3 separate regions of the Homo sapiens genome follow, and all the other regions are linked to region 2. The links come from fine-mapping of genetic effects on gene expression. A gene starts in region 2. Each other region holds a variant in brackets. All regions are shown on one strand. Distances are between the middles of the regions. Region 1 overlaps SPRYD3 (SPRY domain containing 3). Region 2 holds the start of IGFBP6 (insulin like growth factor binding protein 6). Region 3 holds the start of EIF4B (eukaryotic translation initiation factor 4B).

What was found.
Region 1: its variant is fine-mapped to the expression of IGFBP6 in blood mononuclear cells (TOPMed, PIP above 0.99). The same link has a PIP of 0.9 or more in whole blood.
Region 3: its variant is fine-mapped to the expression of IGFBP6 in whole blood (INTERVAL, PIP 0.95).

What each region holds. Positions count from the first base shown.
Region 1 is chr12:53,066,363-53,073,332 of GRCh38, forward strand. SPRYD3 (SPRY domain containing 3) reads right to left here. Exons shown (of 11, transcript NM_032840.3): 6 at 6,924-6,970; 7 at 1,793-1,942; 8 at 1,286-1,343; 9 at 211-330; 10 at 1-124. Among named protein-coding and RNA genes, the nearest start is that of SPRYD3, 9.5 kb to the right of the region's middle. RefSeq lists enhancers at 1-78, 5,520-6,020, 5,903-6,197, 6,021-6,521. The variant A/G (reference allele first, on the strand shown) is at 2,450.
Region 2 is chr12:53,092,724-53,100,290 of GRCh38, forward strand. It overlaps IGFBP6 (insulin like growth factor binding protein 6), which reads left to right and starts at 4,944. Exons shown (of 4, transcript NM_002178.3): 1 at 4,944-5,328. The coding sequence starts at 4,995. RefSeq lists silencers at 5,252-5,331, 5,342-5,461, 6,749-6,964.
Region 3 is chr12:53,005,404-53,013,156 of GRCh38, forward strand. EIF4B (eukaryotic translation initiation factor 4B) reads left to right here and starts at 1,053. Exons shown (of 15, transcript NM_001417.7): 1 at 1,053-1,093. The coding sequence starts at 1,081. RefSeq lists enhancers at 424-1,167, 1,168-1,911. The variant A/G (reference allele first, on the strand shown) is at 3,818.

The DNA.
Region 1 (6,970 bases), 27 kb before region 2:
TCCTCTTCCTCTTCCTCCTCTTCCTCTTCCCCTTCCTGGTGCAGGTACATGACATTCCGCACGTTCCGGACGGCCCGGGCAGTCGGAGACAGGATCACTGTGTCACAACTGTCATCACTGTCCCCTAGGAGACCAGGAAACCTGAGCTCCTGTGGTGCCTTTCCACCCTCGGCCCCAAGCAGCCTGGCTGGCCACCCCTACCCCACTCACCCTCACTGTCCAAAATGTAGTCCCGGGGGAACATGATTCCACAGCCCATGATGTCCCCTTTGTAACAGCGTGGCCCAAAGGGGTCCCCCACACCACTGCCATGGAAGATCTTCCCATCGTCTGTTGGAGGGAGGGGAAAGGACAAACACTTGAGGAAGGAGGGCTGACACCACACCCCCAGAGTGGCTCATGAAGCTGAACACTTCCCACCCCTCAGAGGAAGGGAAGGGTCAGGGCGGAAACAAAGATGGAGAGAGAGGCCGGGCGCGGTGGCTCACGCCTGGAATCCCAGGACTTTGGGAGGCCAAGGAGGGTGGATCACCTGAAGTCAGGAGTTTGAGACCAGCATGGCCAGCATGGCGAAACATCTCTACTAAAAATACAAAAATTAGCTGGGCGTGGTGGCGCCCGTCTGTAGTCCCAGCTACTCAGGAGGCTGAGGTGGGAGGATCACTTGAGCCTGGGAGGCAGAGGTTGCAGTGAGCCAAGATCATGCCACTGCACTCCAGTCTAGGTGACAGAGTGAGACTCCATCTCAAAAAAAAAAAAAAAAAAAAATTGGAGCGAGATATATGGGAAGGGGGCACCAAATAAAATAAAGAGACGTAGTATCCATCTGCTCAAGGTAAGGGTAAGGGAGAACCCTTAGGAAATGAGTCAGAGGAGGGGGCCCTAGGGAAGGAATGAACACCCAGGGAGGGCAGGCAGGGGGAGGTGGGTCGAGGAACTCTAGGCTCAGTTTTCTTCTAAAGAAAGCCAAGGAAACCAAGCAGCAAAAGAAAAAAGAAAATGAGGAAATGAGGGTCTGCAGGAAGGGCACGGGGGGACCAGCTCAGAGGCCTGGAATGTCCCATCTGGGCCCAGATCTCCCTCTCCTGTCCTGCTCCCCTGGTTTCCAGAGCTGGGAGGAAAACACAGATGAGGAGGAAGCACTAGCGATTTGGGAAGGGGAGGTCAGCCAGCAGCAGGGCAAACAGCAAGGCCATTTGTGAGGGGCCAGGAGAGGGGAAAGTGGATGTCCCTATGCCTCCACATCTCCCACCATCCCACCTTTCCCAGGCAGCCCGCTATTCACCTGCATGATAAGCCACAGACCCTCTGCTCCAGCCAGGGTGCCTGTTCTTGGGATAGTCCTGCACCAAGAAGAGAAAAGAAAATCTATGGTCCCATGCATAAACAAGACAGGAGAGAGTGGCGAGTAGCATCTGAACCTCTGGGACAGACCACAGCCCAGAGAGTGCCAACCCTGCACACTCATACCCTGCAGGCACTGGGGCTTCAGGGGAACCAGGGAGGGTGAGGAAAGTGTTAGTTAAGCTTTTAAGGCCAGAGCCATGGCATGTCCCACCCCCTCCCCCCAGGCCTTAGTGTGTGGTGCAGTCATGACCTGTCTCAGGTCCTTGGTCACATGGGGTGTGTACTCTTACACAGCAGACACATACAACTGTGTTCCATCTCAGCTTAGCACCCTCCCTCCAAAGCCTGGGCTCCCCTGGTTTCTCCTAAGAGCTTCCTGGTGCTGCCCCAACAGCCCCAGACCTGAGCAGCTCCATGAGCAAAAAAGCTCAGCCTTTGTGCCCACCTTCCGTGCCAGCCCCAGGGCGATGTAGCATTTCTCTCCAGGGTCCACGATCTCCACCTCGAAGTAGTGGCTGCGGGTGCTGAGTGGGTGCCGGGCCTGGGCCAGCCCCACATCCACGATGCTTTTGCCCTTCCCTAAGTACTCCAGCAGCTGTGGGGGAAGAGCCAGATGGGGGTCAGGGGACAGGCTGACACCCACCCTGGAAACCTGGGCCCAAGGCAGTCTGGGTCCCACTTTCCCAGGTCTGACAAAAACTCCTGGCTGAAAGGGAAAGAATCCTAGAGATACAATGTGGCCCCAAAGTTCTAGGCCAGCATGGAAGAGCAGGATGGGGTGGGAGGCAAAGGGGAGAGCACCCCTTGCTGAATGCCCACGCTGTCTTCCCCCACACACTTTCTGGGAGGCCGGGGAAAGCAGCACAGCTAGGGGAGCGGCACACCAGGGGGCTCTAGATGCATCCTCGCCCGCTGAAAAACCCTGCAGCCTTTCCTGCTGGGAAAGGTCCGCCCAGGGTCCCAAACACAGGGGAAAGGAGAAGCAAGACTAGCTGAGAGGAAACTTGATGACTTTCTCAGGGGGCCTAATGGGGACAGGGAGGATGCAGAAGTTAGGTGCCAACCCCAGATATTCAGGGGAAGCGGGTGAGTTCAGAAGCCA[A/G]TTCTGCCTGGGATGGGCCTGACATAATTTCTCAAGGTCCTTGTTTTACTTGGCTGTGAACACAGCTGTTCTTAGCTGGGTCAGGGAGGTGCTGAGGGGAGCCCAGGGACCCAGAACGCCCAGCTCTACTCCCTCATTTCATGTGAGGGAGAGGAGAGGTCAAAATGAAGACAGAGGCAGGCTTAGCTGTTCCCAGCCCCTCATTGCTCATTCAAGTTGGAGTAGGGGCGTGGAGGTAGGATAGGGGAGATGACTGATGGGTTCTTGGGGCTCTTCAGTCCCACAATGGTCCTGCCTGGGCACGACGGGGCGGCAACCCCCAATCTGGGAGGATTTATTTGTCAGTTGTCATGGTAATAGTGGGGTGATGACTCAACCCCATCCCCTCTTTCCCCCACCTTCGGCCTCACCTGGGATTCCTTAATCTCCTTTTAATTAGCCCAACTGCCCCTCACGACTTTCTTCTACCCTCCCACCCCTGCAGCCCTGAAGGAAACATGTTGCCTAGGGACCTCCTCCACGTCTCCCTGGCAAGCTTTGGGACGCCGGCCTCTCACCTCTCACAGATTCCTGCCTGAACAGGAAAGGAATTATGCCCACCTGCACCAGCACAGAAGCCTGTGCGTGTCTCCAGCAGAGGCTGCTCCCGCATCCCCACTCCCAGCCTCAGACGGCCGCTGCTTAGCTCAGGTGCTTAGAGCGGGGTGCTACTAACCCCTTCTGAGAGTAGGACTAGAGGGGCTTGGTGCCTTTCTCAGCCCTGGATCTCAGCCCCGCCACCTCAAGTCCATCCTTCCCTCCTCTCCAAAGATAACTGGGGATGGATGAGGGGGAAAGCAGCATGCACGGGAGACCACCTAAGCCCATCCCCAAGGCCACACTGTTTGACTTCTGTTCATGGTGTATTCTCTGCTCAGCCTGGGTTCCTCCTCTGCCTCTCTCCCCGGGAAGCCAGGAGGGGTGTGGCTTGATCCACATTAACTAGTTTAGACTCCACCCAGGCAGAGCAGCCCCCAGCCCACCCTCTCCACCCAGCATTGCAGAACTGGGTGGGGGACCCCACAGCTGCCTTTGACCCATTCTATCCAACTGGCCTCGGTGTAGGAAACACAGTGTTCTCCATTTCCAGAGCCAAAAGACAGCCGATCCAGACCCTGATCCTTGGGAAATACCCGGCCAGCCCCTCCCTTTGCCTCAGCTCAGAAGAGGGTAGCTGCTGCATTTCTGTCTCTGGATAGGGTGGAGGTGCTTTCTCACGCTAAAAGCCAGGACGGACTACCCCAACATGGGTCTTTAAAACCCACTCTCTACCTGCCAACCACAGAGCACTTCGGACAGAATGCTGATGTCCTGGACGACTAGGTACTTGTACAGTGTATAGGTGAGGCTTGTACAGCGTGCCCTCTTCAGAGGGGACCGCCCAGCCCTCACAGTGAAAGCCATCATAAACCTCCTGATCCACTCTCCTGCTCCTGGACAAAGCTCCCCCGACCCCTCCTGAGCCTTCCCAGAGAACTCAGAGGGGTGGAAGTGGGGGGAATATTTGGCCTCCCTGACAGATTCTTTCTTGAGTACATTCCTCTGCCTCCTTGGTCTATAGCTGTTAGGAACCTAGAGGAGGAGTGAAGGTTAACCCTTAGAGTCTGAACTGTTAGGATCTTGATGCTGGTCCCTCAACCTGTACCTCAGAATCCAACAGACCTGGGTTCAAATCCTAACTCCTATTACTTAACAGCCGCTAACCTCAGGCAAATGACATTCACCTCCTTAAGCCTTGGTTTCTTCAACAGTAAACTGGGATAAGATTACCTGAATTTCCAAAAACAAGTGGGAAGACTTAATGAAGTGACCAATACACATTGCTGCCTCTCCCTAAATCAGTGTAAATGGGGTTACGTTGGAATTGCCGATCACAAAGAAGGAAATGATCTTTCATCTTAGCCCTTACTTCCAACTACAATGGTCCCTTAGGCCAACCAGGACGATGGCCACTCCCCAGACAACTCTACCCTATGTGTCTCCTCTCAAACAATGTCCAATCAACAGAAATGTTTCTCTGCATTTTTGGTGGGGGAAGATGGAGCCCTTTCTTTGGGTCTCCCCCTAATACACACATACCACCAAAGCCCCAAGAAGCCAAAGACATGACTCAGTGCCACAGAGTGGCGGCTGCAGACCAGAGTGTGGACAGTCTCGTGCACTCCACACCCTCCCTCTACCAGTAGCACCTTCCCAGCCTCTTCTCCCCTGCCGGTATCCGCCCTCCTCCCCTTGCCAGCAGAGACCCTAATCCCTCTTGACAGGAGCAAGGAAGGGCTCAGTGCCCTGAGGGCCCAGAAGCAACTGAAACAGGAACCAAGTACACACTCTCCTGGCCAGCTCAGGCTCCAGCACAGCCTCCCTCTGGGCTGGGTCTGGGGAGGACCCCTGGGAGGGCGGGGCCTCATTCACCACCCTGTGTGTACCAAAGCTGTTGCCCCTGTCACTAAGGAGTTGTCAGAGGAGCTGTGAACAGGGCACAAACACAGAATGAGTCTAATCCCCCAGCTGTTACCTACCGCCCCCAGCTCCCCTCCACCACATTACCTCACTTTGCGAGGCCTGGAGGCAGGGATGAGGTGAGAGGCAAGTGCCCCAGCAATTCCTCAACCCCTCAGAGCTCTGAGGAGGTAGACTCTTTAGGAGGGGGAAACAGGCCACAGGAGGCAGGGGAAGAATTCCACTCAAGAAAGAGCCAGGTCTGTCTATATCCAAAGACTCAAATCTAACAACTGTTGAGGCCCAGGGCAGTGGCTCATGCCTCTAATCCCAGCAATTTGGGAGGCCAAGGTGGGAGGATCCCTTGAGCCTGGGAGTTGGAGGCTGAAGTGAACCAGCACTCCAGTCTGGGTGACAGAGTGATAGCCTGTCTTAAAAAAAAAAAAAAAAAAAAAAGGAAAGTTGGCATGACTGGAAAAAGGCACATGTCCCTCAGGAAGCTCACATCCAAGTTGGCCCCAGAGGAACGGGTGCCCCAGGAGTAGTGCTCCCACCCTGCCACCTGGCCCAAGCTGGGGTGAGGGTCTGAGAGAAGGGCCCAATTCAACAGCTTATGTCTAAAAAAGAAAAACACTCTTAAATAAGTGGCTGAAGGTGTTGGGGGGAGGGTGGGGAGGAAGGAAGGCTATTTATAAATGTCTACAGGATTCTGCATCAATTAGAAAAGATTGCCTGGGAGGAGCTGAGAGCAGAGTGGGGACAGGTCCAGGCAGAGAAAGGATGCCAGGAAAAAACTCTTGAGGAGAGGTCAGAGATGAGAGCTGGAACATCGCCCTGGCGCAGCCCCAAGTTTAACTCTGTAGATGTTGTCAGAATGATGGTAGATTGAGGGGAAAAAGGAAAGACATGAGAGTCACGGAGTGGGCATCTGAGGCCTCTTAGCTCTCGGTCGCTGCAGCCTGGGACCCTGATGCCAGACGGGGGTGCAGAGTGTCAGAAGCAGCAGGAGGGCACACTTCCTGTCATTTTCCCTGAGTTCCACTCCACCAGGGGGAGGCCTGGCTCCTAATCCGCTCCCACCCCCCACTGCTTCTGTTTTGTTATCAAAGACTGAGTTGAAAACAGCCTGGGTTGGGGTGGAAAGGCCAGAGGGTGGAGAAAAAGGCCAGGCCAGGAGCAAGGGGGTAGGAGAGGGACAATTCGAAGTGGGAGGGCTGAGCAGCCCACTAGAGGTCAGGGCCAGATCCCGGACTTGGCGTCCATTCACTCCCAATGCAGCACAGTGTATTGAGGCAGACAGGAAGAATTTTCCTTTCTCAAGGTTCATGAATTTTCCAACAAAACTTAAAATCCGGGGAGGAAGAATTCCCCTTTCTCAAGCTCCACACGCTTCCCAACGAAGCTTAAAATCCATACTAAAGCAGGTATGAGGAAAAGATAAATGAAGCAAGTTTGGAGGTGTAAGGATGCTCACTGAATCTTTATCTGCCTCCATTCTAATCCTCTATCAAATGCAGGGATAAGACAATAGAAACTGACATTGACACTTCCTCAAAAAAGATGGCTAAGAACCTTCCACCACATGTGTGGACTTCTGACCACACCTGCCCCACAACACTTTGAATGAAAAGCCTGGGCCAGGCATTTTGCCTCCAGATCAACCCCCAGCCCCTCAAAGGCAGTTGTGCAGGGCTGTAGAAGACACCAGAAGCTGAAGGAACCAAAAAAGGCAAAGCAGAACTACTTGTTCCCAGGGTCAAACTGCGAACCTGAGTTCCCTGAAGAGGAGGAAGTGAAGAAAAGAGAACATGTGCTAAAGAAAACACAGATCTGGACTCAAGGACTCATGTCAAGAGCCTAGGCTATCTTGCCAAACCCCACACGGACACTGTCCCGACTCCCCATTCCCAGCAATTCAGACATGACCATGTGCCCACAGGTGTTCTGCCCAGCCTCCTCCGACCCAGCCCCTCCCACCCTCCCACCCGCTACTTACAGTCCCACAGACTCTGACATCATGTAGCCGGCCCCATTCATCCTCGT
Region 2 (7,567 bases):
CCAAAGTGCTGGGATTACAGGCGTGAGTAAGCACACCTGGCCTAAAAAATTAAAAAATTAGCCAGATGTGGTGGTGCGTGGCTGTGGTCCCAACTACTCTGGAGGCTGAAATGGAAGGATTACTTGAGCCCATGAGGTTGAGGCTGCAGTGAGCTGTGACTGAGCCACTGCACTCCAGCCTGGGTGACAGAGTGAGACCCTGTTTCAAAAAAAAAAGAATGTGGCTAGTGATGAGGGGAGTGAAGGGAGGGTCCTTGTAAGCTGAAAGCTTGGAGTTCAGGGGAAGAAATGATCTCTGAGCACCAATTATGCCTCATCCTCATTTCCCCTTATCCCATTTCAATCCCCAAGATGAGAAACTACCAGGGGGTTCTGGGGAAGGTGATTCAGCCAGCTAACTGAAGCAGAGTGTGTTTCAGGGTCATTGTCTACGGGACCCTGAATGTCAGGTGGAGCACAGGTTCTATGGTAGGGGAGGACATCGAGGAATAACACACACCGGGACCTGTGGGGTCGGGGGGCAAGGGGAGGGAGAGCATCAGATCAAATAGCTAAGGCATGTGGGGTTTAATACATAAATATATGGACTGGGCATGGTGGCTTATGCCTGTAATCCCAGCATTTTGAGAGGCTGAGGCGGGCAGATCATGAGGTCAGGAGTTGGAGACCAGCATGATCAACATGGTGAAACCTCGTCTCTACTAAAAATACAAAAATTAGCCGGGCACGGTGGCACGTGGCTGTAATCCCAGCTACTCAGGAGGCTGAGGCAGGAGAATCACCTGAACCCAGGAGGCAGAGGTTGCAGTGAGCCGAGTTCGCGTCACTGCACTCCAACCTGGGCGACAGAGCCAGACTCCGTCTCAAAAAAAACGAAAAACAAAAAACATAAATACATAAGTGATGGATTGATAGGTGCAGCAAACCACTGTGGCACATGTTTACCTATGTAACAAACCTGCACATTCTGCACATACATCCCAGAACTTAAAGTAAAATTTAAAAACCAAGAAATAAAAAGTAAAGTGCCCCCGAAATCCTTGAGGAGAAGAGAATTATGGGATCAGGAGCACATTTCAGCAGGACCAGTTTGGATGGTATGTGTGGGAGAGATGGCAGAAAACAGAGGCTGCAGGTTAGCTGAGGTTTACACAGTAGTTCCCATCAGGCCCACGTCAGCCTTAGGCCATGTCATGATGTGATGTGGTCATTGAACTTCCTCTCTGGGACTTTCTGTCTGTGGACTGTGCCACTGTTTCTCGTCTCAAATTTAAAGCTGAATATGGTCCAGGCAGGCCCCTTCCTTTATCCCTTGTTCTCAAAAGGAAGTCAGCACTTGGGGCACCATGAATTTAGAGGGACGGGTTGAGTGTGAGAGACACAGCATGAAGGATCAGAAAACCAGGGTATAATGTAGATGCGGAGGAGGAAGTTCCAGTAGAGTTTGTTTATGGAAAAGCTTAAGTGATAGCCCAAGCTATTTAGCCTTTCCTCAGCCTGGAAGAAACTTCTCAGCAAACCCTTCTCACACAAAGGCCAGACAGAATCCGACAGTTTTGTACCTTGGCCCACACTCTTGGTCTGAGTGCTGAACATGTGCTTCAGATTTCTGCCCTGGGTACTAAGGCAGAGGGCATCCCAATGGCAGGAAGGCAGAGTTCAAGCGTCTCAGTCTGCAAAGAGACCGGTTAGACCCTCAGTGCTGATGGCCATACAACTGGGGATCATGCTAGAGGGAGGGGGAAACAGGGAAGTGTAATCCTGGGGTGGTGGGTGGAACTGGACTGTGCAATCGGGCTTAGAATCTAGAAAGTAACAGCTGGGCAGGTGGGAGCGGCAGGCAGGGAGAATCTGAGGCAGTGGTAGCAGCGTGGGAAGCGGGGGCTGGAAATTGAGGAGGGTTGAGGAGGGAGTGGTGGATGTTAGAAGCTGGCAAAGTGTTGGGCTTTTTCTGAACGATAACCTACAAAGGAGTAGCACAGCCTTTTTTTTTTTTTTTTTTTTTTTTTTTTTTTTTTCTTTGAGACAGGGTCTCACTCTGGTTGTTCCAGGCTGGAGTGCAGTGGTGTGATCTTGGCTCATCCCTTCCACCTTAGCCTCCTAGGTAGCTGGGACTAAAGGCATGCACCACCACATCTGGCTGATATTTTGTATTTTTAGTAGAGATGGGGCTTGGTCATGTTGCCCAGGCTGGTCTGGAACTCCTGGGCTCAATTGATCCTCCCACCTTGGCCTCCCAGAGTGCTGGGATTACAGGCATGAATCACTATGACAAACATCTTTAAAGAGCCACATCAATCTGGGTGCAGTGGCTCACACCTATAATTCCAGAACTCTGGGAGGCCAAGGCGGAAGGATCACTTGAGCCCAGGAGTTCCAGACCAGCCTGGGCAACATGTCGAAACCCCCTCTCTGCTAAAAATACAATTAGCCAGGCGTGGTGGTGTGTGCCTGTAGTCCCAGCTACCTGGGAGGCTAAGGTGGGAGGATCTTCTGAGCCCAGGAGGTCAAGGTTACAGTGAGCCGTGATGGAGTCACTGCACTCCAGCCTGGGAAATAAAATGAGAACCTGCCTCAAAAAAAAAAAAAATCTAGAACCAGACCAGAAATACCATTTGACCCAACGATCCCATTACTGGGTATATACCCAAAGGAATATAAATCATTCTATTATAAAAATACATGCACATGTATGTTTATTGCAGCACTATTCACAATAGCAAAGACATAGAACCAACCCAAATGCATGGAATACTATGCAGCCATAAAAAGGAATGTGATAATGTCCTCTGCAGGGACATGGATGAAGCTGGAAGCCATCATTCTCAGCAAACTAACACAGGAACAGAAAACCAAACACTACATGTTCTCACTTATAAGTGGGGGCTGAAAACAATGAGAAAACATGGACACAGGGAGGGGAACAACACACACTGGGGCCTGTGGCGGGGTAGGGGCTAGGGGAGGGAGAGCATCAGGTCAAATAGCTAATGTATGCGGGACTTAATACCTAGGTGTTGGGTTGACGGGCAGCAAACCACATGGCACATGTTTACCTATGTAACAAACCTGCACATTCTGCACATGTATCCCAGAACTTAAAATAAAATAAAATAAAATTTAAATTTAAAAAAGAGCCACACTGGGATCCTGCAAGAGCACAGCCATCTCTTTCCCCTTCCCAACTTCCCACAGGCTTTCCATCTTATTCAGGAGCACCAACCCGAAGTCCAGGAGAAAGACCCTAAGACCCTAGCCAGAACCATGTGTAGGACAAAATAAATAGTGATAAAGGGTGTGCAGCAGGACCCCAGTACTCTGGAACCCATCTCTGACAGCCTTGGTTCCAGGGAGCTTGGTCAGAGCTTGTGGCAGGGGGTTGAAGAGCCTTGGTGGAAGGGGTGCTTTCTCTCACCCCTTTCCCAATTTTGCCCTTCCTCTCCTCTGCCCTGGTCTACTTCTCCCATCAGCAGTAGCTTCTCCCATCAGCTGCCCCACAACCCTCTCCTCCCTGCCTCTCCAGTCTGCATCAGTATCTCAGGGAAACAGGAAAACACCATTCTCCAAACACATGTCCTAGGGTCCCAGGGTTGCATGGCGAAGCGGGCTGTGCTGACAATGAGGTTCGTATTATTTCTATTTACCTAAAAGTTCAAGAAGGCCTTGCTGACATTGTTGCTTGGGGCCCAGCATTTAAACTTAGTCACTGCCCAGAGCCCTTGTTTTAGGAAAGAATGAGATGGTCCCTGTTGCATAACCCAGAGTTGGGTGGGTGTGGGTTGCCGAAGGAAACAATCCCTCTTCCTCTCTCTTGTGAGGCCTGGCTAGGAGTGCCTGGGATGGGCGGGACACTGCCTGGGGAAGGCGGGTGGGGAGCGGTGGAACCCGACCCTTGGAGCGAAGGCGGACAAGTAGGTAGGCAAAGATGCTGAGTAGTCCCTCCCCAAAGTCCCCTGGGCACAAGACAGTCTGATGAATCTAGAAAACCCCATGGATGACTGGGAGGGAAGGAAACGGATTCTGGGAGAGGAGAGGAATGGAGGAGCGAGCTTACCTGAAGGACGGGGATGGGGAGGGGGGTGGGGTCTGCTCTCTGGCCACTGTCCCCAAGAGCATCCCGAATACGAGTTCCTTTAATTCTCTCCCTCTCTAGTTTCAACCTGCCAATTTCCCCCTTTCCCTGCCTCCCAGCCAGTTCTCACCCTGCACACAGCCCTCTCCAATCCTTCCAGACTCCGCATGCGCCCACCACAATGCTAGGGTCTCCTACGGTTCATTCAAGTTGTATCCCTCCCTGCCTCCCGGCCCTTCCCCCATTGGCTTACCCCAGTCTGGTTCCCCTCGGGCCCCTTTTCTCCATAGTCTTACCTCAAGGGTGCTTTCTCTTACTCCTTTCCCAATTTTGCCCTTCCTCTCCTCTGCCCTGTTCTACTTCTCCCATCAGCAGTAGAATTTCCCAAGACCCCGTTATCCACCCTCTCCATCTTTTCTCTGTCCCTCCACATTTGCCCACTCCTCTTGTGATCCACACACACCATCTCTTCTCAGTTCCCTTTCAGCCCCCGTCTTCTCACTCCCCACCGGGTCCCTGCATGCCCCTCGTCGTCCTACACATACACACTAAGTGGATTGCACTCCCGTCCTCCCCTTCTTCCGCTCCTCCCCACCCTCCAGTCCCTCCAGCCAGCTGTACAGCTCCCAAATTCCGGGCCGAGATTCCCGGGAACAAAGCAAGAAAAATCAGAGCAATTTGGGAAGTAAACAGAAACTGGAAAGGGAGAGGGAAAGAAGAGTGGGGAGGACCCAGGTTGGGGGGGCCCTCTCCAGTCCCACCCAGTTTAGGGAATGCCCCTGCCCTCTCCCCCACCCCCCTTCACCTGGCTCTTAAAGGGCCCGGCCCCTGGCCGGCGGCTACTTAAGACAGAGGGGCGGCGGCGGGCAGCAGCTGCGCTGCGACTGCTCTGGAAGGAGAGGACGGGGCACAAACCCTGACCATGACCCCCCACAGGCTGCTGCCACCGCTGCTGCTGCTGCTAGCTCTGCTGCTCGCTGCCAGCCCAGGAGGCGCCTTGGCGCGGTGCCCAGGCTGCGGGCAAGGGGTGCAGGCGGGTTGTCCAGGGGGCTGCGTGGAGGAGGAGGATGGGGGGTCGCCAGCCGAGGGCTGCGCGGAAGCTGAGGGCTGTCTCAGGAGGGAGGGGCAGGAGTGCGGGGTCTACACCCCTAACTGCGCCCCAGGACTGCAGTGCCATCCGCCCAAGGACGACGAGGCGCCTTTGCGGGCGCTGCTGCTCGGCCGAGGCCGCTGCCTTCCGGCCCGCGCGCCTGCTGGTGAGTCCGCGCCCCGCCCCTGCCCCGCCCACGTGAGACCCGCGTCCTCCAGGCAGGGTCCTGGGGAGACGGGAGTGGGTGGCCCGGCAAGCCTTTCCGCCCTGGCCCTTGACGCTTCCGACTTTGGGGGGCACATTTGTGTGGGGGAGAAGGGGCAAGTGCAGGAAGCTGAGGTGCAGCCAGGGGACCTGGTGATACAGCAGAAGGTGTCTGCGCTCTCGGCCTTCTTTTTTGCTCCATTTATTTTCCCTTGATGGAGTGTGCGTGCAGGTGGGAACTTGGGGGAGGCAGGGGGAGAAATGGGAGGGTTTTAGGGCCATCCCATGGGCTCCAGCAGGCCCAGCTCCTACAACCCTAGACGGCCAAGCTGGGGAAAGGACCCAAATGTTGTTCTCAGCTTCCACTTGGAGAAAAGGGGAGGGGAACCCCAGACTCTGAAATTCTGCACACACTGAGAAATGACTCCTTTCCTCCTAATACCGGTGTTCGAAGCACCTAAACAGGAGGCGTCTAGAACCGAAGAGGCCCCAAATCCAGGGTTGTATTAGACTTGAGTAGGGACTGAGGGCAGGCTAGGGCGTAGGTTAGGGGAGAGGGGAGAAAGAGTAGGGGAAAGAGGGAATCTGCCAAATCAGGGTTATGATTTAAACCTGCTCAGAATCGTTCACCCATCCTACCCCACCCTGCTCCAGGGAGGAGAGCAGAAGCTGAGTCACTGGGTGGGTGGGACAGAAGTGAATCAGCCGTGAAAACATGGGGGGCAGCGGGGAGATGGGGAGGGCAGGAAATGCAAACTGCGCATCCCAGAGGCTCTGGGTTCCTTCCACGGGAGGGGATGGAGAATTCACTTGGAGTTTCTTTCAGTTCCAAATGCCCGAGTGCAGGCTTCTGGGCGTCCTCCTAAAAGGTGGTCTGGGTGGATGAGAGGAGGCAGTTTGGAACTAAATGGTTGGGTGCTAAATGTAGGGAATGAAGGAGAAGGTCTGGGGAGGGGTGGGCATCCTGAGGAAGAAGGATCAGACTCAGGATTGCAGGGGAAATGTCTCCTGGGTTGTGAGTGGTAGTTAGCTGGGAGCTTGTCTTTAGGCACAGAGGAAGAGGATCCCTTCAGGGGTTCTGATATCTGATTAGATGTTAGGCAAATTCCAAGCAGTCAGTACATGCTCCCCTTTCTGCCTTTTCCTGTCCCTGACTTATTTCCTCACCCCTTCCCAGTCCTGAGCTCTCCCCGGACCCTCCGGAAACTTTCTCCAGAGCCAGGAGCAACCTGCAGGTTGGAAGCCCCTCATTCCTTGCACCTTCTTAATCTGCCCTCAGCCTATCTTGGTTAAGGGTTGAATCCATGTGCTCCTGGGACCACTGGGGTTGAGCTGGCCTGGGTCACAGGGTACCAGAAGGGAGAGGTTCCCACTGCAGTGCCCCAGAAGTAACCACATCTCAGGCCTGGGAGGGGTGGGTTGAGTCATAGCAAGGTCACAGCAGGGACACACATTCCTTTTGGGTCCCTGTTGGCCCCCCTCCTACATCCGTTGCTCTTCTGCCCCAGCTCTCCGGCTTCGTGCGCCCCCTTCTGGCCTCTGGTGGAACAGCCAGGTCTTTTCACCCAAAGCCCAAAGCCCCAAATAGTCCTTTGAATTTGTTCTCCATTTTTTCATTTATTTTATTATTTATTGTAATTAATTGATTGATTTTTAAATTAGTTAATTTTTTAAAATTAAGTAATTAGTTAATTTTTTAAAATTAAGTAATTAATTAATTTTTTAAAATTAAGTAGTTAATTTTTTTTAATTAAGTAATTAATTAATTTTAAAAAGTATTTATTTATTTTGAGACAAAGTCTCACTCTGTTGCCCAGGCTGGAGTACAGTGGTCCAGCGTCTCACTGCAACCTCCGCCCCCCCGAGTTCAAGCGATTCTCCTGTCTCAGCCTCCGGAGTAGCTGGGACTACAGGAGCCTGATACCATGCCAGGCTAATTTTTGTATTTTTAGTGGAGACGGGGTTTCACCATGTTGGCCAGGCTGGTCTCGAACGCCTGACCTCAAGTGATCTGCCCACCTTGGCCTCCCAAAGTGCTGGGATGACAGGCATGAGCCACTGCGCCCAGCCAATAATTTATTTATTTTTGAGACAGGGTCTCACTCGGTTGTCCAGGCTGAAGTGCAGTAGCACAATCATGGCTCACTGCAGTCTTGACTTCTGGGGCTCAAGCAGTCCTCCTGCCTCAGCCTCTCAAGTAG
Region 3 (7,753 bases), 87 kb before region 2:
CCTGTAATCCCGGCACTGTGGGAGGCCTCGGAGGGAGGAATGCTTGAGTCCAGGAGTTCGAGACCAGCCCAGGCGACACAGGGAGACACACCGCCCCCCCCAAGCCCGCCACTCTGTCTCCACACAAAGACTTTTTTTTAATTAGCTGGTCCTGGAGGCACTCGCCTGTGGTCCCAGCTACTCAGGAGGCTGAGGTGGAAGAACTGCTTGAGCCCCGGAGGTTGAGGCTGCAGTGAGCCGAGATCGCGCCACTGCACTCCAGCTTGGGAGACAGGGCGAGACCCCGTCTCAAAAAATAAAAATAAATAAAAATAAAATCAGTGATTTCTGATGTGGCTTTTAAAAACTAGGCCGGGCGCGGTGGCTCACGCCTATAATCCAGCACTTTGGGAGGCCGAGGCGGGTGGATAGCCTGAGACCAGGAGTTCAAGACCAGCATGGCCAATATGGTGAAATATCCCGTTTCTACTAAAAATACAAAAAACTAGCAGCGAATGGTGGTGGGCGCCTGTAATCCCAGCTACTCCAGAGGCTGAGGCAGGTGAATCGCCTGAACCCGAGAGGCGGGGGTTGCAATGAGCCGAGGTCGCGCACGCCATTGCACTCCAGCCCGGACAACAGGAGCGAAACTCCGTCTCAAAAAAGTACATTAAACTCAGAATCTTCCCTTTCAGCACATCCATTTCGCCACACCCATCACCGGCTCCGTGCAGAGTAAGCAGAAGCAGCAGCGAAGCCCCGCCCTTCCCGCCACTCTTCCGGCAGGAAGTCTGTGCGTCAGGAGGCCGGCCAGGACTCAGCTCCAGCCCCGCGCTCGCGTGTAGCCCTACGTAAAGCGTGAGGGGTTTCGCGACAACCCAGGCCCCGCCCCTTTGGCCACATGTCGCGCATGTCTTCCCGTCGGACGGCGTGCCACCTCGCCGCGCAGCTTTACGAACCTAGAGCAGCGCCGCCCCGCCTCCTGTCTCCGTCCTCACCTCCCCGCCCCCTCCCAGCTTCGCGTCTCCTAGCTCGACGCGCCCGCTATAATCACGTGATTGCCTCATCCGGGTCTTTTGCGTTCTCTTTCCCTCTCCCAACATGGCGGCCTCAGGTGAGCGAGCAGCCGAGCGCGGCCAAGGACTGGGCTCTGAAACCCCCCTCCGAGCGTGATCCACTGATTTCCTGAAGTCGGGGAATTGCTGGCACTGGTTCCTTTCTGAATTGAGGGCTGCGGCAGGCTGGCGGCGTGGCCCTGTTAGGTTACTGCCTCTGGATGTTTGGGGGGGAGGGGAAGGACACCTTCCCCTCCCCCTCACACTCTTTTCACCCTTTCTGCGCGAGATTGGAATAGGCAGTAATGGTAGACTCTGGCTTGAATTGGGGAAGGAGGCGCAGAAAGGTGTGCGGGTGGTGCGAGGCCTTTTCGTAGACGTGAATCACCGTGCCCGCGTGAAGGCGTGGAGGAAGGAAGGAGGCGGTTGCTGCGCGGACGAGTGCACATTAGACTACGTCTCCAAGGCGCGAGGCTGTAGCGGACCGGAGTGGGGGGTAGGGGAGTAAGTGTGGTGGGGGGGAGCAGTTGGAACGCGAGCGCGAGTTGGTGGAGGGGCGGGGGAAGGCAGCGGTGCGCGTGCGCGGTAGGAGACACGAGGGTAGTAGAGACGGGCGCGCCTTCAATGCGTGCGCTAGAACCCAGATGGGAAGCTTTTTAACGCGCCTGTGTTGCGCACTTATGTCCTTTTAGGTTGTCTCTTCCCTTTCTAGAGTGTGGGCCCTGTGCCTGTATTCTTCTAAGGGTGTGTGTGTTAGCCTTGGAGGTTGGTGCTATTGGCGTTAGATGGGGGTGGGGAATCCAGTTAGGTGCGCCCACGTGTTGGAGAAGCACCGGTGTGCACCTAGATTTCCTTCTAGGCTTTTTTCTCATACTCAATTGGAGGCATTTTTTACTCAGCGCAGCTATATGCCAGGATCAGGTTTCGCTTCCGGCGCTTCCATGTTGGTTGAATTTGGATAGCTCCAATGGTAGATTTCAGCCTTTTTTTTTTTTTTTTTTTTTTTTTTTTAAGGTAACTGTGCAACTACCAGCAGGTACTTTTAAAATAGTGCTTACTAATGGCTGGAGTTGCTTACTTCTTTAGACAACCTTGGAGGGGAGTATCAGTGCCTTGCAAGTCTAATTACATTTCTAATGGGCTTATAAAAGCAGTGATGACCCAACATCTTGTAGCATTGATTTTAGTTTGAGGAATATAGTTTGTTTTCTCTGGCATGACCTTGCATTCTTCAAAACATTATTTGAACTTCTATCTCTGGGTGCTCATTTCTTACCTAGTAATTCATCGTCTCTATTACAAAGAAGCTAAGGGTTTTGGTTGGCTTTGGAAAATGTTGAGAAATTTGAGGTGCATTTGAACATCTTTCATTGGTGTAACGCTTGACAGTTGACCAAGCACTTTTGTGCATGTTGTCTCCTTCCATCCTGAGGTACTGCAGAGAGCTAGTGGTATTTCTCAGCTAAGGAATATTATTTAAGGCCACACTGCTCTCAGCTGGCAGAGCAAGGTCATAATCTTTGAGACTCCTTAGCAACTTAAAAGTATCAAGGTGTCATCATCAGTTTAGGACGCTGCCCGAAAGCATCTGAAGTTTACAAAAATGTTCATATTTTTTTCTCCAGTGGGCTAGTAAAAGTCCTAAATATATTTTAAACTAACCATTGCTTAAAGTACTTACTTGGTCTGGATTTGCCACCTTAACAGTTTAGTATCGTAATTTAGTGAAGAAAATCTGTGTTTTCTTAACTTTTGTGTAATTTTTAGAGGCGGAACATAGGACAGCAATTCATGTCCTTCGTTTTACCGAGTTGAGGGAAATCCAGACTGATAAAAGGGATTTACTCTGACGTCCCATTCTCTTGTTCTTCCATATTTACTCTACCCCCTTGAAAACCCTCATCTCCTTTAATTCACTTCAGTAAATCTTTTTAGCTGGTACTGGTATCTGAGCACAAGTCACATCTTTCAGTCTGTTCTTGAGGAATCTGGGGTTTATCGGATTGTTTCCCCGCTCCTCTTTCCAGTCACACTGGCTTTGTGAAGTAACCAGTATTCCCTGATGTGGGAAATGGATGTTATGTGTTCTGTGTGAAAATACATAAAACAACTTCATACGCCTCTTTTACTGTTAAATGAGACCAAAAAATTCTTTGCAGCAATACCAGTTTCCAGTGTGATCCATTATTGACCTTCAAGAACTAAGGTAGGTCTCAGAACTAACTATAGAATGAGGATAGTTTGAATTCCTAGAAACTTGATACATTGAGCCAGTACACTTAATTCCTTGCTTTGCTTCTTAAAAAGAATTCTTAAAGGCCGGGCGCGGTGGCTCACGCCTGTAATCCCAGCACTTCGGGAGGTCGAGGCGGGCGGATCACTAGGTCAGGAGTTGGAGACCAACCTGACCAACATGGTGAAACTCTGTCTCTACTAAAAATACAAAAATTAGCTGGGCGTGGTGTCGCGTGCTTGTAATCCCAGCTACTCCGGAGGCTGAGGCAGGAGAATCGCTTCAATCTGGGAGGGGGAGATTGCAGTGAACCGAGATTGTGCCATTGCACTCCAGCCTGGGCAAAAGAGCAAGACTCCATTTCAAAAAAAAATCTTAAAAATACGAAGTTTTTCATTTTTCTTAAATTTTCATTGTGACTACTTTAGTAGACTTGCCAGTAATAAGCCAGTTACCGCTTGAATCTCAGTTTCTTTATCTGGAAAGTGGTCATTATTTATCTGCTGTCCCCTTACCTAGAGGGAATCAAATGCGTTTGATACAGGTTAAC[A/G]TTTAAAATGCTTTCAAATTGGGCAGGGTGCAGTGGCTCATGCCTGTAATCCCAGCACTTTGGGAAGCTGAGGTGGGTGAAACACCTGAGAACAGGAGTTCGAGACCAGCCTGGCCAACATGGTGAAACCCAGTCTCCACTAAAAATACAAAAATTAGCGGGGTTTTGGGCTGGGCGTGGTGGCTCACGCCTGTAATCCAGGAGGCAGAGGTTGCAGTGAATTGAGATTGCACCACTGCCCTCCGGCCTGGGCGACAGAGCGAGACTCCGTCTCAAAAAAAAAAAACAAAAACAAACTTTAAAATTGGAAATAACATATGTAAGCTCATGCACAGGCCTTTCATTTCCATAATGCTTCAAAATGCAGTCCTGTGTGACATCTTATTTGATTATTTTTATAGGGAGAAGATGCTCTGCAGTGGTTGTTTTCATACACTGCTGACTCTCACAGTGAAATGGTTTTAAGGGGTGCCATTATATATTGCTTACAGATTCCCTAGTGTCAAGTTCCATCCTCTATCATGTATATGTTATTCTGTGAGTAAGATACCCAGAAGGCCAAAATTAAAACTCTTTATGAAAGTTTAAATACAAATACAGAATAGTGTCAATTAAGATAAAGCAGTGTTTCTAAGTAATGTCATTGAAAAAAGAGGTATATTTCATCTCAAAACATTCTGGAATTCTCTTTTCGTGATGGTAGAGGAAATAACTGAACTTGAGTACAGTATTTTAAGTAATTATTTGTAATTAGGTTTGCCTTATGTACATTTATGAGCCAGTTTCTTAAATTTGTAGTAGATACTGCTATGGTCCTGATAGTGGGAAAGTACCAAATCAAGAAGTTTAACTTGAATTTGTGTACCTCCTGTCTCCCATTTTGTGTAATGGTTAGCATGGCATGCATTGGGCACTTATTTTGTTTGATTATGTATATGATCAAATTGAGTATCCCTGGAGGGATAAGGAAAAGGTAGTATGGCATCTTCTGTCAAAATGAAGTAATTGGGCACAGAGAGGTCATGTAACTGAACCCGTACGGGGGTCAAGATGGTGGAGCTTATGAGTTTTGACTCAGTCTTTACTATGCTAAACTTACCCAATCCCCAACTAAATCAAAAGGTGGCTTGCACTGGGATCTTTTTGACTTTACAATGGGTTTATCCGGATAGTAAATGCATTTTTTTACTTGAGAAGGGTTTATCCTGACAGTCTCATCATAAGTCAGGGAGCATCTATATAGTGCAGTAAAGGTGAAGGTGAAATATTGTATTACATTGCATGAAATGTCTTTTCATGGCTGGGCTGTAAACACCAATATAATTAGTCTAATTCTAGGCACTCTGGGTGGATCGATTGTGTTTATGCAATGTTGTTGGTTTAGGGAAACATTTGTTATTCATTATTTAAAGTAGCTTTTGTTTTGTTTGTTTTTGTTTTTGTTTTGAGACAGAGTCTCACTATGGCTCAGGCTGGAGTGCAGTGGCGTGGTCTCAGCTCACTGCAATCTCCACCTCCTGGGTTCAAGCGGTTCTAGAGATGGAGTTTCACCATGTTGGCCAGGCTGGTCTCGAGCTCCCGACCTCAGGTGATCTTCCCACCTTGGCCTCCCGGAGTACTGGGATTACAGGCATGAGCCACCACACCTGGCCTAAAGTAGCTTTTAATTATGGAGAATGTGGCAGAACTCACTTTTAGTAACAGCTTTATTCAATGTAATTTGTATACCATAAAATTTACACTTTTAAAGTATACAGTTTGGACCGTGTGCAGTGGCTCACTCCTGTAATCCCAGCACTTTGGGATGCCAAGGCAAGAGGATCACTTAAGCCCAGGAATTCAAGACCAGCCTAAGTAACATAGTGAGACCACGTCTCTACAAAAAAAATTTTAAAAATTAGCCAGGGGTGGTGGCATGTACCTGTGGTCCCAGCTACTTGGGAGGCTGCAGTGGGAGGATTGCTTAAGCCCTGGAGGTCAAGGCTGCAGTGAGCCATTATCTCACTACTGTACTCCAGCCTGGGTGACAGAGCAAGACCCTGTATGATTTGGTGGGGTTTAGTATATTCAGAGATGTTCAACCATCATTATTATCTAATTTCAGAACCTTTTTATCACCCCCAAAGAAAAGTCCTTTATATAGGACTAACAATTCCTTTTCATTTATCTTTTTATTTATTGAAGTGAAACATCACTTAGAACATGGTTCTCAGCTAAGGGACAGTCTTTTCATCCCAAACCCTCATCCCACCCCAGAGCATTTGGCAGTGTCCAGAGACGCTTTTGGTTGTCAGAGTGGAATGGGGATCGGGGATTACTATTGGCATCTAATGAGCAGAATCAGAGATAACTGCTAAAATCCCCCCATGACAAATTACCTAAGCTAAAATATCAGCAGTGCTGAGATAGAGAAACTCTGAGTTAAGAAGTAGGCTGTATTTATTTTAGTATCTATTATAACAAATCCTGTTTATTAAGAAAACCATGAATGTGTTGTCTCTTGTTTAACGGCTTCTGGACTTAGCAATATTTCCGTTTTTAAGATCTTTTATTAAACCTGTATGGGTATATAAAGAGCTGGAGGTGTGTTTTCCCCACTGTAGACCATGTATAAATAATTGGGACAGGTTTTGTTTTGTGAGGTGATTGATTTGTTAACTTTTTAACCAGTTCACATAAGATTTAGAGAAAATTAAAGAATTGGACCAGTTCATTGTTGAATTGCAAAGGATTGATAAACCTGGAGCATTAAACAGTGCTTTACTTATAAAGCAGAGGGAACACTGTTGAAATCTAAACATGTAATGGGCCTAGGTATTGAGGGAGCAAAGGGCATGGAGGATTTAGATAACATCTTTTCTCAGTTAACTGGAATGAAACGGAGTGGAACAAACACGGGCACCTACTTTAGGTTTATTGATTTTGCTTTCCAAGGGCTAATTCCTTTAAACCTGCTGCTTATATTTTGACTGAGTCAGTGCTGCTGCTACAGTTAAATAAGTTGAAGATCTTGTAAGGAATTTTAGCCTGTTTTTTTAAGACTCATCTAACAGGTGGGGCGCAGTAGCTCAGGCCTGTAATCCCAGCACTTTGGGATACAGAGGCGGGCAGATCACCTGGGGTTGGGAGTTGGAGACCAGCCTGACCAACATGGAGAAACCCCATCTCTATTAAAAATACAAAATTAGCCAGGTGTGGTGGTGCATGCCGGTAATCCTCGCTACTTGGGAGGCTGAGGCAGGAGAATCGCTTGAACCCGGGAGGCGGAGGTTTCGGTGAGCCGAGATTCCACCATTGCACTCCAGCCTAGGCAACAAGAGCAAAATTTCTGTCTCAAAAAAAAAGACTTATCCAACAGTAATTTCTTTTTTTTTTCCTTTTTTTTTTTTTCTTTTTTTTGTGGGGGACGGAGTCTCGCTTTGTAGCCCAGGCTGGAGTGCAGTGGCACGATCTCAGCTCACTGCAAGCTCCGCCTCCCGGGTTCACGCCATTCTCCTGCCTCAGCCTCCCGAGTAGCTAGGACCACAGGTGCCCGCCACCATGCCCGGCTAATTTTTTTGTATTTTTAGTAGAGACGGGGTTTCACCATGTTAGCCAGGATGGTCTCGATCTCCTGACCTCGTGATCCACCCGCCTCGGCCTCCCAAAGTGCTGGGATTACAGGCGTGAGCCACCACACCCAACAGTAATTTCTTAACCAGAGGGCCTGGGAGTGGGTGGCAATCAGAGGAGGGGGAGACTTGTGATTTGAAAAGACATTCTAAGATTTAAAAGTGCTTTTAATATTTTTTAGTCATGATATTTAATTTGTTTGGAAATTTCAAATAACGTTAAAGAAGAAACTTGTTTGTCAAAGGAGTCAAGGGGTGAGAGTTGAGAAACTGTGATCTACAAAGTTGATTTAAGCCAAATCGGACTAAAGGGCAGATTAATTCC